2 linked regions of the Homo sapiens genome follow. The protein of the gene in region 2 binds, or shares a complex with, the protein of the main gene of each other region. Each region holds a gene or a part of one and is shown on either strand. Other genes may lie near its edges.

Region 1 (3,500 bases), on a different chromosome or scaffold from region 2:
TGAAAAAGATACAGCATAGACAGACGACTGGTCCCAGGACTTAACTCCCGAGAGAAGAGAATTTAGGGCAGAACTATTGTTCACTGATGAACCCAAACCCTTAGAACAGTACCTGCTTGGCACATGGTAGGCTCTTGATTTATTAAATGAATGGCTGAACTGAAAACCCTTGATGTTTAAAGGTTGGTGGAGGAGTGGCCTTGGGGTACAAGTAAAATCCCAAGAAAATGGTATTATGGAAGCCAAGGCTCCGAATGTCTCAAGGAGGAATAACCTCCTTGAAATATGTATTAAAGATGTGTTAATATGTATAAAAAATGGATAGTGGGCTAAGTAGTCTGGAAGATGAAAATAATAAACTTTTTTCTTTTCTCTTGTTTTTTTTTTCCTGAGTCTCTTTTTGCAGTCAACTTATCTTTGTGGCTAAAGGTACATTTCACAGTTCTGAAATCCAAAATGACCTGAAAATTGAAAAAAATTTTGGTAACTCATTTGGAATCAAAATCTTAACCTGAATCAATGTGAGGCTATTTATGATCTTTATTCCTCTGTGAATACCGTGAATATTCACACTTTTTTGCTGTAGAAATATTAATGTTTGATTATATCATGCCACCCAAACTCTAGGCTATTACATAATATATGGCAGGTGTACCATATTATCTCTACAAAATCTGAAAAAGTGTAAAATTTGAAACATATCTAATTTGAAGGAATATGGATAAGAGATTGTGGACCTTAGTAGACACTTCCATTCTGTTAGTTTCTTGAAGAGTGAGCAATTTGTAAAATTTTGCAGATAAATAATTCTTTACAGTAATTTCTTTGCATTGACAATTAAAGTTTGTTGTGTTCAAGGAACCACCTTGAGCTGATTTTTCTGAATGTTTATTTCATTGGTAAAGTATTTTTATGTACAGGTTGAATATCCTTTATCTGAATTCTTGGGACCAGAAGTATTTCAGATTTGGGGAGGTTTTGCAATATTTGTAATTATTTACCAGTTAGCATCCCTAATTCGAAAATCAAAAATTTGACATGCTCCAGTTAGCATTTCCTTGACTATTAAGTTGGTGCTCAAAACAGTTCAGATTTTGGAACATTTTGGATATCAAATTTTTGGATTAGGGATAATCTGTATTTTGATGCAAATCAGTAACATTTAAAATGCCCAAATTATTAATACATTACTGACCATTTAAATGATGAATAAAAATTGTAGGGTCTTAAAACTTCTTAGCCTTTTTATACTTTATGAAAAAGTGGGCTGGGCACAGTGGCTCACATCTGTAATCCCAGCACTTTGGGAGGCTGAGGCGGGCAGATCATCTGAGGTCAGGAGTTTGAGACAAGCCTGGCAAATATGGAGATACCCCGTCACTACTAAAAATACAAAAATTAGCCGGGTATGGTGGTGGGCGCTTGTAATCCCAGCTACTTGGGAGGCTGAGGCAGGAGAATTGCTTGAACCCCAGAGGTGGAGGTTGCAGTGAGCCAAGATCACATCACCGCACTCCAGCCTGGGTGACAAGAGCGAAACTCCATCTCAAAAAGAAAACAAAGTGGATGCCTACAAAGTAGCCATCTAGAGAATTGTGAGATACAGAATTAGTGGGAAAAAGTTGGAGATGGTTATTTTATAACGCCTTTATATTTTAGAAGAATTCTTTTTTTTTTTTTTTTTTGATACAGAGTCTCGCTCTGTCACCCAGGCTGGAGTGCAGTGGCACGATCTCGGCTCACTGCAACCTCCGCCTCCTGGGTTCAAGTGATTCTCCTGCCTCAGCCTCCTGAGCAGCTGGGACTACAGGCGCATGCCACCACACCTGGCTTTTTTTTTTGTATTTTTAGTAGAGACGGGGTTTCACAATGTTTGTCAGGAAGGTCTCGATCTCTTGACTTCGTGATCTGCCCGCCTCGGCCTCCCGAAGTACTGGGATTACGGGTGTGAGCCTCCACGCCCAGCTAGAAGAATTCTTGGTAAACCAAAAAATTATCTGTAGCTTGGCTGCCCTGTATACATGTATCATTTAGGTTCTTTGTGTATTCTTTGTGGGACTGGGGTCCCTAAATTTCAACAGAGAAACTTGTTGAAAGCTATGCGTATTCGTATACGATTTGAGGACCCTATTAGTAAAAAGTAAATTACTCTGATATATTAGGTACAGTTTCTTGTGTTCATTTTCTTTAAATTAACCAAGACCCTAAGCCTTTATTTAAAATATTTATATTTCATATTATGTCTTTTTTTCAGCCTTCACCCTGCCATTTCTAGTGAATCTGTAAGTGTCCTTGACATTCCCTGTTGTTATTACTTAAGAACATTAGCTGTGAGCTGCCCTGCCAGAGTTTGAATCTAGCTCCTCCACTTGCTGGCTATGTGACTTAGGCAATAATACCTGACTTGTCTGTTTCTCATCCTTCTTTACTATTATACAATAGGAATAATGTAATAATACCCACATCATAAGGTTATTGACAAGATTAAAAGATATGTGAAGTACTTAATAGTGCCTTCTAGTAAGCACTCAACAAGTGTTAATTACTGCTTTTTTTTTTTTTCAAACACACTTGCTCAGAAATTGCTACTGTAGTCTCCAATTATTGGGGCCTGGGGCTTTTCACTGGATTTTCAGTGTGCATCAAATAACTAGAGTATTTGATGTTATGATGTGGTAGATGTTAGAGACATTTCATTTGGGTAATTGTTACACAGAGGCAGATAGATGGAAGTTATTGTTTAGTTTGTGTCTTTTCTGTTTTAGGTGATATTGGAAATTATTATGGGCAGGGTCATCCCACGAAACCTCATAGAATCTGCATTTCTAGTGAAGACTAGACTTTCATTATTTTTACTTTAATGATTTCTTTAGTAGTGATAACTAAGAAATGCCTTCCCTTGTATTAATTTAATTACATGATGCTTTGTAATAACACTAGTGGGTTTTCCATATCTAAGAAATGATGAGACCAGGCTGCTTTCAAGGAACTATATATCCCTTGTATTGTCACCATGTAAGGTAGAGCTTTATGGTAGATTCTTTCTTAATAGGTAGTTTATTTTCTGCAATCATAGCCTCTTAATTATAATTGCAGAGGAATGTTGCAAAGGGCCATGGCCCTGCTTTGCTAAACTCTATATTGTTTCTTAGCCTTGTTGGCACCTGCATTAAAAAGGTGGCTTTCCCTTTAAAAGACTTTGTATATGAATTGTTTTCAGAAGAGAGCTGTGCTGAAAATGAAGTTAACTAAAATTAGAGGTGTGATACCAACAAAATCAAGTATTTATGTTATTAGAAGCATGGATTTTGTAAAAGCTGATTGTTTATCCCGTACTGTTATCAAATATGTAGGAGAGAGGACAAAAAAGTTTTTGGGGTTGTTTCCATTAAACAAACAAAAGGTGTATTTAGGGAGGACTTTGAAAGATTTAGTGGATAAATTGCATTTTTTATTCTAGCTTTTATTGTAATATATAAACCCGTGTTGAAATGATAGAC
Region 2 (3,500 bases):
AGTGAGCTGAGATCGTACCACTGCACTCCAGACTGGGTGACATAGCGAGACTCTGTCTAAAAAAAAAAAAAAAAAAAGAGTTATACCAGAGCTAGGTGTGATTGCACACACCTGTAGTCCCAGCTACTCAAAGTTGGAGGATCACTTGAGCCCAGGAGGTCAAAGGGTGCAGTGAACTATGATCACACCCCTGTACTCCAGCTTGGGCGACAGAGTGAGATCCTAGATCTTAAAAGAAATAAGAACCAGTAAAACCTTCAAAACACTGCTAAGAGAAATTAAAGATGATGCATAGAGACACAGCCCCTGTTCATGAGTCAGAAACTGAATGTTGTTAGAATGTCAACTCTCCTTGGCTGGGTGCGGTGGCTCACGCCTGTAATCCCAGCACTTTGGGAGGCTGAGGCAGGTAGATCACCTGAGGTCAGGAGTTCAAGATCAGCCTGGCCAACATGGTGAAACCCTGTCTCTACTAAAAATACAAAAATTAGCCAGGTGTGGTTGTGCGCACCTGTAATCCCAGCTACTCGGGAGGCTGAGGTACGAGAATCGCTTGAACCCGGGAGGTGGACGTTGCAGTGAGTGAAGAGCGCGCCACTGCACTCCAGCCTGGGCAACGAGAGTGAAACTCTGTCTCCAAAAAAAAAAAAAAGTCAACTCTCCTCAATTGGCCTATAGAGCCAATGCAGTACCAATCAAAATCCTAGCAGGTTTTTTGTTTTGTTTTGTTTTGTTTTTTTTGGTAAAAATGGATAAGCTACTTAGAAAGTTCATATGGTAATACATGATCTTAAGACTTAGAAAGCTACAGTAGTAAAAACAGTATGGTATTACATTTTTTTGTCTTTTCAACAAAAGGTACAAATGAATATCCACATGCAAAAAATGAACTTTAACTCATACTTTACACCATATACAAAAATTAACACAAACTGAATTGTAAACCTAATTGTAAAACCTAAAACTATAAAACTTCTAGAGAAGGCCGGGCAAGGTGGCTCACGCCTGTAATCCCAGCACTTTGGGAGGCCGAGGCGGGCAGATCACGAGGTCAGGAGATAGAGACCATCCTGGTTAACACGGTGAAACCCCGTCTCTACTAAAAATACAAAAAATTAGGCGGGCATGGTGGTGGCATGTGCCTGTAGTCGCAGCTACTCGGGAGGCTGAGGCAGGAGAATGGCATGAACCTGGAAGGCGTAGCTTGCAGTGAGCCAAGATCTCGCCACTGCACTCCAGTCTGGGCGACAGAGCGAGACTCCGTCTCACAAAAAAAAAAAAAAAAAAAAAAAACTTCTAGAGAAAACAAGGGGAAAATCTTTGTGGTTGGGTTAGGCAAAGAATTCTTAGATACAACACCAAAAGCACAGTCCATAAAAGAAAAATTAATAAATGACTTCATCAAAATGACAAAATTTTTCTTTAAAAGACATTGTTAAGAGATTAAAAAGCTACAGATTGGGAGAAAACATTCACAAAGCATGGATCTGGATAAATGACGTGTCCTGAATCAATAAAGAACTGCTGTAACTCAATAATAAAAACACAGCCGGCTGGGCGCGGTGGCTCACGCCTGTAATCCCAGCACTTTGGGAGGCCAAGGTGGGCAGATCACCTGAGGTTGGGAGTTCGAGACCAGCCTGGTCAACATAGCAAAACCCCGTCCCTACTAAAAATACAAAAATTAGCCAGGCGTGGTAGCAGGCGCCTGTAATCCCAGCTACTCAGGAAGCTAAGGCAGGAGCATCGCTTGAACCTGGGAGGCAGAGGTTGCAGTGAGCATGGATTGCGCCACTGCATTCCAGCCTGGGCAACAGAGTGAGACTCCATCTCAAAAAAAAAAAAAAAAAAAGAAAACACAGACATCTCAATAAAAACATATGCAAGAGATATGAACAGACACCTCACCAAATAAGGCATACAGACAGCAAACAGGCCCATGAAAAGATGCTCAGCATCGTCAGTTGTGAAGGAAACACAATGCGATGCCACCACACTGTCATGAGAATGGCTGGAATTAAAAGGACTGGCCCTACCCAGGGCTAGCGAGTTTGTGGAGCAACTAGAAATCTCTTTTCCTGCCGGTAGGAATGTGAAATGATACAACTACTTTGGAAAATTGTTTGGCGGTTTCTTAAAAAGTTAAGCATACACCTACTAAGTCATTCCATTCCTGGTATTTACTCCTCTAGAAAACAAAGTACATGTCCATACCAAGACTGGTACCTGAATGTTCATAACGAATTTATTTATAGTCATCCCAAACTGGAAACCACTCAAATGTCCACCAACAGGCAAATGATTCTTTAAACCGTGGTACATCCACCCAGTGGAATACTATTCAGCAGTGAAAAGGGGAGACCTATCAATACCTGGAACATGGATGAACTCAAAATCATGATGCTGAGTGTGAGAAAGCTGGACCAAGTAGAGTCCATACTGTGTGACTACTCCATTTATAGCAAACTCTAGGAAATGAAAACGAATTTACAGTGCCCTGGCAGATCAGTGCTGACTGAGGACAGGGGGTGCAATGGGGAGTGATTACTATGTGGCAGGAGGAGATTCAGGGCTGAGGGACATGCTCATTATCTTGACTGTGGTGATGGTTTCCCAGGTATAGTATCAATATGTCAAAACTTAGCAAATCTTATTATACTGCAATTATGTGCAATTTTGTATACATCCAATTTTTTTTTTAGAACAGAAAATAAGCAGCAGGACATTATATGCAGTGAGATCTCATCCTTTGGCTTTTTTCGGGGTGGTGAGAGTCTCATCTTGTCACCCAGGCTGGAGTGCAGTGGTGCAATCTTGGCTCATTGCAGCCTTCACCTCCTATGCTCAAGCAATCCTCCCACCTCAGCCTCCCGAGTAGCTGGGACCACAAGCACGCGGCACCATGCTAGGCTAGTTTTTAACTTTTTTGTAGAGACAAGGTCTCACTATATTGCCCAGGCTGGTCTTGAACTCCTAGCCTCAAGCAATCCTCCCACCTTGGCCTCCCAAAGTGCTAGGATTACAGGCGTGAGCCACTGCGCCTGACCTCATCCTTTTTTTCTTTTTTTGAGACGGAGTTTCACTCTTGTTGTCCAGGCTGGAGTGCAGTGGCGAGATCTTGGCTCACCGCAACCTCCGCTTCCCGGGTTCAAGCGATTCTCCTGTCTCAGCCTCCCGAGTAGCTGGGATTACAGGCATGTGCCACCATGCCCAGCTAATTTTGTATTTTTAGTAGAGACAGGGTTTCTCCATGTTGGTCAGGCTGGTCTCGAACTCCCAACCTCAGGTGATCCACATGCCTCGGCCTCCCAAAGTGCTGGGATTACAGGCATAAACCACCACGCCAGGCCCTTTTTTTTTTTTTTTTTTTGAGACAGAGTCCTGGGCCGGGCGCCGTGGCTCACGCCTGTAATCCCAGCACTTTGGGAGGCTGAGGCAGGTGGATCACCTGAGGTCGGGGGTTCGAGACTAGCCTGACCAACATGGAGAAACCCCATCTC

The links. The genes of interacting proteins can lie anywhere in the genome.
Region 1: ZNF541 (region 2) and HDAC2 share a complex: the UniProt entries of both Homo sapiens proteins name them as parts of the histone deacetylase complex.

Annotation. Positions count from the first base shown.
Region 1 is NC_000006.12:113,961,149-113,964,648, reverse strand, and holds part of HDAC2 (histone deacetylase 2), read left to right. Parts: intron 1-2,254; exon of another isoform or gene 2,255-2,282; intron 2,283-3,500. UniProt on the Homo sapiens protein: Histone deacetylase that catalyzes the deacetylation of lysine residues on the N-terminal part of the core histones (H2A, H2B, H3 and H4).
Region 2 is NC_000019.10:47,524,649-47,528,148, forward strand, and holds part of ZNF541 (zinc finger protein 541), read right to left. Parts: intron 1-3,500. UniProt on the Homo sapiens protein: Transcription regulator which is essential for male fertility and for the completion of meiotic prophase in spermatocytes.